3 separate regions of the Homo sapiens genome follow, and regions 2 and 3 are each linked to region 1. Evidence: fine-mapped expression QTL. A gene starts in region 1. Each other region holds a variant in brackets. All regions are shown on one strand. Distances are from middle to middle.

The links.
Region 2: its variant is fine-mapped to the expression of HISLA in blood mononuclear cells (TOPMed, PIP 0.93).
Region 3: its variant is fine-mapped to the expression of HISLA in whole blood (TOPMed, PIP 0.98).

What each region holds. Positions count from the first base shown.
Region 1 is chr14:88,022,824-88,025,592 of GRCh38, reverse strand. HISLA (HIF1A stabilizing long noncoding RNA) reads right to left here and starts at 1,043. Exons shown (of 4, transcript NR_046094.1): 1 at 924-1,043; 2 at 112-186. It overlaps LINC01147 (long intergenic non-protein coding RNA 1147), which reads left to right. Exons shown (of 3, transcript NR_110121.1): 2 at 1,817-1,918.
Region 2 is chr14:88,091,576-88,094,344 of GRCh38, reverse strand. No RefSeq gene overlaps it. Among named protein-coding and RNA genes, the nearest start is that of LINC01147, 67 kb to the right of the region's middle. The variant A/G (reference allele first, on the strand shown) is at 1,752.
Region 3 is chr14:87,958,211-87,960,979 of GRCh38, reverse strand. All of the region lies in intron 10 of GALC (galactosylceramidase), which reads left to right. Among named protein-coding and RNA genes, the nearest start is that of GALC, 34 kb to the left of the region's middle. The variant A/G (reference allele first, on the strand shown) is at 1,170.

The sequences.
Region 1 (2,769 bases):
AGATCCATGGCTAATGCACTGCTTTTAAAGAACTTTCATAACTCACTGGACACATAGGGATGTTATGTGCTTTTGCCTAGTCATGAACAGAAAATAAACACAGTTACTTACTTGTCAGGCAGAAAACTTGATTAATTTTTTTAAGCAGTAAGCAGAATCATAGGAAATCATTTCCTTCATGCAAGCCTGCAATAAACGGGAGGTGCATTTGCCACGAATTCATTTTGGTGTTCACATGGTAAAAAAATACTGCCACATGTGGAATGAGCCAAGTGGGCTTTAGAACTGAAGGGGACCAGCCCCTCCACACCTGTGGGTGTTTTTCGTCAGGTGGGACAAGAGACTGAGAAAAGAAATAAGACACAGAGATAAAGTATGGAGAAAGAACAGTGGGCCCAGGGGACCGGCACTCAGCATACGGAGGACGGGCGCCAGCCCTGGTCTCTTGAGTTTCCTCAGTATTAATTGATCACTATCTCTACCATCTCGGAGAGGGGGATGTGGCAGGACAATAGGGTAACAGTGGGGAGAGGGTCAGCAGGAAAACATGTGAGCAAAGGTCTCTGTGTCATAAATAAGTTTAAGGAAAGGTGCTGTGCCTTGATGTGCATGTACACAAACATCTCGGTGCATTAAAGAGCAGTATTGCCGCCAGCATATCTCACCTCCAGCCATAAGGCGGTTTCCTCCTATCTCAGTAAATAGAACGTATAATCGGGTTTGACATTGAGACATTTCATTCCCAGGGATAAGCAGGAGACAGATGCCTTCCTCTTATCTCAACTGCAAAGAGGCCTTCCTCTTTCACTAATCCTCCTCAGCACAGACCCTTTACGGGTGTCTGGCTGGGGGACGGTCAGGTCTTTCCCTTCCCACAAGGCCATATCTCAGGCTATCACATGGGGAGAAACCTTGGACAATACCTGGCTTTCCTGGGCAGAGGTCCCTGCAGCCTTCCGCAGTGTATCGTGTCCCTGGGTACTCAAGATTAGAGAATGGCGATGACTTTTACCAAGCATACTGCCTTCAAGCACTTGTTTAACAAAGCACATTCTGCACAGCCCTAAATCCATTAAACCTTGAGTCAACACAGCACATGTCTCTGCAAACACAGGGTTGGGGCTAGGGTTACAGATTAACAGCATCTCAAGGCAGAAGAATTTCTCTTAGTACAGAACAAAATGGAGTCTCTTATGTCTACTTCTTTCTACATAGACACAGTAACAGTCTGATCTCTCTTTCTTTTCCCCACGTAGAACTCTGAAATAAACATTGCAAAAAATCATACCCATAAAAATATTAATCTGTATTTCTTATGCTCATATTTTAAGGTTGAAAAGATCAATATAACATTAGTACTTTATCACTCTCAAATACTTTTATATCCAATATTTCATTTGCACTGAATAACAGATACCATTAGGTGGGCAGGGGAAATATCCTCCTATTAAAGACAAGGACACAGTCTCTGAGAGGTTATCTCATTTGTTAAAGGTCACGTAGCCTGTAAATGAAAGAACAAAAGTTCAAACAAACCTCATGCCTCCAAATCAAGAGGAAGCCTCAAGGGACCACACTGATACTGCTGTTAGATATGTTCACCGTCTCATGTATTTTGATGTTTACACAGGCCATTTTTAACATACATGTTTAGCAGTCAATGCCACTGGAAATCAGACCAGGGCATGTGTTTAGACATCTTATGGGTATTTCCCTGAATGAGCCCATGAATAGAGTGTAAAAATAGATAAGAAACTGACTTCCTGTTTGTTTCTCTGCTCCCACTTTTTGTCCTTCTTCCGTTGTGCCCTGGGAGGCTGATCTTAGGACCTACAACAAAGAGATTTCTCACTGGCTTCCTGGTGGTTCATTCAATAGGGAATTCCTGCAGCAAGTTGGAGGGAGGGAGGAGAAGCAGGTATGGATTTTTGTTTCTTTCCCTAGTTCTCATTTTAATGCCTGGCCATAGGCTGGCTATGCCTGGGGGTCTGCAGACAGACTTCTGTGCCTCCAGCTTTGGTAACCACCCCCTCTGCTTGCCCTCTCAGAGCCAGGGGCCTCAGGGTGCCCAGATGTTCTTATCCCCAGTTCACGCATCATCCTTGTGGCTTCCTTGTACCCTGCCCATCCTTTGTAAATATCTCTTTACTAAACTTTCCTCAGAATACCTGAATTTGAGTGATCTCTCCATTGCCTGCCAGGATCCTTCCTGACATTACCTTCCAGAATGAATATTTCTGAAGGAGTCTATTCTCTATGCAAAGAAACTCAATTTCTCACCATGTATAAAAGGAAATAAACATCGTTTTCAATGGAAAATAATGTAGGGGACATGTCTGGTGTCACAGGTGTGTTTGGACCACACAGCCCAGAAAGATGTAGTCATAGAAACAGACTCTTTTCTCTCCTTTGTTTGGTAACAGCATCCTGATTTTCCCTTGAGAAACGATCCTCTCTTCTCCTTACAGTCTCTGTTATTATGGTGGGACCGACCCTACTCTCCAGGGCAGGCATGGGGCCCTGCCCTGGCTTATGAGAAAACTATACACCCCTAACCACAGTGATCAGTTTAAAGATGGGAAGGAACAAGGGCAGGGGAACCTTTACATTTTCCAGAGATACCAAGAAAGAGGCTCTCTTCCCGCTGGATTTTCTAATCTGTGGAACCTGGGCCTGGAGATGCTGTTAACCATCTTTGACATCATATAAAAGCCAAAATAAAATAGCAAAAGGTGGAACTGAGAGATGGTGAAAATGTCCTCCTGGCCA
Region 2 (2,769 bases), 69 kb before region 1:
ATTCTGAAAATGGTTATCAAGAATAAACTGGATAATCTATATATAAAAAGCAAGAATAGAATTTTTTATTTTTATCTTCTAAATCACAGAAATCATTGCTAATGTTTCCCAAACCTCACTGTAAACCATTTTAAGTCTTTCCCTCCTTTAATACACTGTGAGGTGAACCCTAATAGCATCATCCTCTTTGCTCTATGAGACCCAGAGCTAGAGAGGGATCAACCTGCCTGTTCAGCCCTCCATAGTTCTTGGGGTCAAGGAGGATGAGAAAGTCCTTCCCAGAATATTCACATGAACTAGGACAGCCTTTCTAGGACCCAGGATGTGCCATAGCCTTGTTGTCACCTGTCATAGTGTTTGGCCTTCTTGGGTGATCACTAAATTCCTTGCTGGTTTTAACAAGTTATGTTTCATTTTTATTTTTTCCAATGTTAGTTTTCAAGATGTTCCTCTGTTACATAGATTTCCTAGGCAGCTTATTCAAAGTTGAGATAAGCAAACCTAAACTGACATACTTTGATTTTCAGTGATATGGGAAATGTCCATGATAAAACAACTGAGTTAAAAATGGCAGATAAAAATATGTGCAGTATGCTCCCAGTTCTCTATGTATCTTTCTGCTACTTGTAGATGTGTGATTTTGGGCAAGTTACTTATCTGATGAGCCTCAGTTTCCTTAAATGCGCATAATAATATATACCTTGCAGGGTTAATGTGAAGATCAACAGTGACGTATTTGACACTCCTTTACAAATGTTGGAGAGTTATGCCTTGTCTTAGTTTGCTAGGCTGCCATGACAAAGTAGCACAGACTGGATGGTTTAAACATTAGAAATATATTTTCTCAATGTTCTGGAAGTTAGAAGTCTGAGATCAAGGTGTCAGTTGTTTCTTCTGAGACCTCACTCCCACCCTTCTTTCTTTCTAAGTTTAGCTCTTACGTAGGAATCTTTAGGAAGTGTTTTTTCCTTTCATCACAATCACAAGAAATTAACCTTTCCCTTCAGGGTCCTAGGGCTCTTCGATGAACCTGCGTCAGAGCCATGTTAAATCTTACTTACCTTTGCATCCACTTAGGCACAGGACAGGATTTGACACATAGTAGGTGTTTAAGAAATAACCCATTGAATTGCATTGAATGCCTGTTAATTAAATGAATGCTTTCCTGTTGTCTGACTTAGCTGGGGAATACTTTCATTTGATCAGCAGCAGACCACCCTGCAGGAAGCAGAGATCAAAGGAGTTAACATGATCCCAGACCATTTGTTAAAAAACTGAGAGTGAAGTAGTTTGATTTCCTTCATATATATTTTATGTTTAAGAAATCTATGGTAGGATATGTTTGAAGCGGCCTAACATTTGTGACTGTTAACATGAATGTTAAATGACTTTCCTGATATATAGACATACTTTGAATTTTTAGTCAATATGAGACAAACTATTCTACTCAGGAAGTTCAGAATATCATGTAGGGTGATTATTTAAACTGCTTATGTAGGAGGATAAATGGGCAAAAAGAAAGTCTGCTATGAAAATGTGCAGAGATGATTTAAACAGGACTGTGTTTTGAAGTGTATGGAATGTACATACACATACTCTTTGCCCTGAATGTACATGTACATATGTTTATTTGGAATGACTCTCCTAAGGATATTTGGGATTACAGTACAACTACATGAGTGGCTATGTGAAATTCTTCTCACTGTAGGGGCCTTCTCTTTCTTATATGAACCTCAGCTCCAAACAGGTGG[A/G]CTTTTATAAAATCTTAAAGCTAAAAGTGTGCCTCACACACTTCCCTTGTCCAGGCTGGCTGCTTGTGCAAACCTGAGACAACACTAAGTGAGATGTTAGATGATCTGTAAACAGCTCAAGCAATGAAGGGCCTGACAAATCTGTGCATAATCTACAGAGTTCTGTATTTTTACTACTTTTACAGCTGAGGTTCCCATCTTTATTGTTTTTGTAATAAAAACCTACGCTATTGCTAATGAACATTTTTTTTTTTGTAAAAAAATCCTTTGTTCCTTACACATAGTAAGAGGTCAGTAAAATTCTTTTGAATTGATGAACAAATGAACTGAAAACAGGTTTTTCCCAGCAAACTTCCAACTCCTCTAAAATGTTTGGAAGTAATCTTACTTCTCCCACATCCTCCTTTTTTCATTGATGACTTCACCATCCATTTACCCAGTCTTGGAGTGAAAGCATATGGGGCGGGAGGGTGCAATTAACACCTTCTTCTCTCTTGTTTCCTACATCCTGTCAATAAGTCCAACAACTATTCTCAGATCTATTATCTCCATTAATTCATTCACCCTGTTCCTGCCTCAGACCATCGCCTTTCACCTAGGCAGCCTTAGGGACTTGTTCCAATATAGGTTTTACTGCCATGACAGAGATTAAACATAACAGTATTTTAAAACACAAGATAGAAGTGATTCTCTCTGTCACATAATGATCCAGGACTGTTTGGGGTCTCTTTCTTTGCAGGGGTTCAGATTCCTCTTGTGAAACCCAGAGGTTTCACATGTAATTTAAACTCACATCCCATTTGTCAGGATTAGTAACATGGCTCATCTCAGTGCAAGGGGATAGCTGGGAAATGTAATTGTGTTAGTCTGTTTTCATGCTGCTGATAAAGACATACCTGAGACTGGGAAATTTACAAAAGAAAGAGGTTTAATGGACTCACAGTTCCACGTGGCTGGGGAGGCCTCATAATCATGGTAGAAGGCAAGGAGGACCAAGTCACGTCTTACATGGATGGCA
Region 3 (2,769 bases), 65 kb after region 1:
TGTGATGAAGCCCACTTTGTTTTCTCTTTTGTTTCTTGTGCTTTTGGTGTCATATCTAAGAAGCTATTGCCTAATTCAAGGTTCTGAAGATTTATATTTATGTATTCCTTTAAGAGTTTTAGAGTTTTAAATCTTAAATTTAGGTTTTTGGTCCATTTTCTTTCTTAACTGGGGTTATATGTGTGTCCAACTTGATTCTCTTGCATTTTAATATCCAGTTGTCCCTGCACTATTTTTTGAAAAGACTATTCCTTTTTCATTGAATTGTCTTGGCATCCTTGTTGAAAATCAATTGGCAATAAATTTGAGGGTTTATTTCTAGAACCTCAATTTTTTTCTGTTGACTTATATATCTGTCCTGACGTGAGCACCACACTGTCTTAGGTACTGTAGCTGTCTGATAAATTTTGAAGTGAGGAAATGTGAGTATTTCAACTTTGTCATATTTTTATTTTTTATTGACACAGGGTACAATTTGATGTTTTGATACATACATGTGGTATAATGGTCAAATCAGGGTATGCCCATCACCTCATGAATTTATCATTCCTTTGTGATGAAAGCATTCAAAAGCCTCTCTTCTAGCTGTTTTGTAATACACAAAACCTTACTGTTAACCGTCTTCACCCTAGTGTGCAAGAAAACACCAGAACTTACACCTCCTGTCCAATAGTTACTTTGTACCTGTTGACCGACCTCTTCCTGTCCTTCCCTTCCCAGCCCCACCCTAGTGTCTGGTAACCACTGTTCTACTCTCTGCATCTGTGATATCAACTTACACCTCCTGTCCAATAGTTACTTTGTACCCGTTGACCGACCTCTTCCTGTCCTTCCCTTCCCAGCCCCACCCCAGTGTCTGGTAACCACTGTTCTACTTTCTGCATCTGTGATATCAACTCTTCTTTTTTTTTAATTCTACATGTAAGTGTGATCATGAGGTATTTGTCTTATTGTGTCTGGCTTATTTCACTTAACATCATATCCTCCATATTCCTCCATTTGTTGCAAATATCAGGATTTCATTCTATGACTAATAGTACTCCATTGTGTATATATATATCACATTTTCTTTATTCATGCATTCATTGTTGAACACTCAGGTTGATTCCATATCTTGGCTATTGTAAATAGTGTTTTAATAAACATGGGAGTGCAGATACCTCTTTAAC[A/G]TATATATTTTATTTTGGGGGGATATATACACAGTAGTGGGATTACTGGATCATATGGTAGTTCTACTTTTAATTTTTTTTTTTTTTTTTGAGGCAGAATCTTACTCTGCACTTCCAGGCTGGAGTACAGTGGTGCAATCTTGGCTCACTGCAACCTCTGCCTCCTGGGTTCAAGTGATTCTTCTGCCTCAGCCTCCCAAGTGGCTGGGATTACAGGCGTCTGCCACCACACCTGGCTCATTTTTGTATTTTTAGTAGAGACGGGGTTTCACCGTGTTGGCCAGGCTGGTCTCAAACTCCTGACCTCAAGTGATCTGCCCGCCTCAGCCTCCCAAAATGCTGGGATTATGGGCGTGAGCCACCACGTGCCCCGCCTATTTTTAATTTTTTAGGAATCTCCACACTGTTTTTTATAGTGGCTGTACCAATTTACAACCCTAACAACATGAAGTAAGTATTTCTTTTTTTCCACATCCTCACCAACACTTGTTTTCTTTTGTTTTTTTGGTAATAGCCATTCTAAGTAGAGGGAAGTGATATCCCATTGTGGTTTTGATTTGCATTTCCCTGATGATTAGTGATGTTGAGTATTTTTTCATGTACCCATTGGCCATTTGTATGTCTTCTTCTGAGAAATGTCTATTACAGTCTTTTGCCCAATTTTAAACTGGGCTATTTTGTTGTCGTTGTTTAAGTTCTTTACATAGTCTAGATATTAACCCCTTGTCTCATGTATAATTTGCAAATATTTCCTCCCATTTTGTAGGCTGTTTTACTTTGTTTCTTTTGCTGTGCAAAAGCTTTTCAGTCTGATGTCATCCCCTTTGTCTATTTTTGCGTTGTCTGTGCTTTTGAGGTCTTATTTAAAAAATTCTTGCCCAGCTCATTGTCATAAAGCACTTTCCCTTTGTTTTTTTTCTAGTTTTATAGTTTCAGGTTTTATATTTAAGTATGTAATCAATTTTGAGTTGACTGTGTATATTGTGAGAGACAGGAGTCCAGTTTCGTTCTTCTGCATGGGGCTATCCATTTTTCCCAGTGCTGTTTATGGAAGAGACTGTCCTTTTTCCTAGCGTGTTCTTGGCACCTTTGTTGAAAATTAGTTGGTCATAGGGCATGAATTTATTTCTGGACTTTCTATTCTGTTCCATTGGTCTGTGTGCCTGCTTTTAGACAAAACCATGCTGTTTTATTAATCGTTACTATAGCCTTTTAGTATATGTTGAAGTCAGGTAGTGTGATGCCTTCAGCTTTGTTCTTTTTGCTCAGGGTTGCATTGACTGTTTGTGGTCTTTTGTGTTCCTATATAAATTTTATGGTTGTGTTTTCTATTTATGTGAAGAATGTCCTTGGCATTTTGATACAGATTGCATTAAATCTGTAGATTGCTTTGGGTAATATGGCTGTGTTAACAATATTAATTATTCACTATATTTTTGTGAGTTTTTTTTAGTGATTATTCTGGGGCTTACCATATACATCTTAACTTATTGGACTCACTTCAGATTTAAACTAACCGAATTACAGTAGATTATGCTGAATTCCCTTGTTGCTCTGTTCCCTTTCTCCTTTTGTTCTATTATTAGCACACATGTCACAA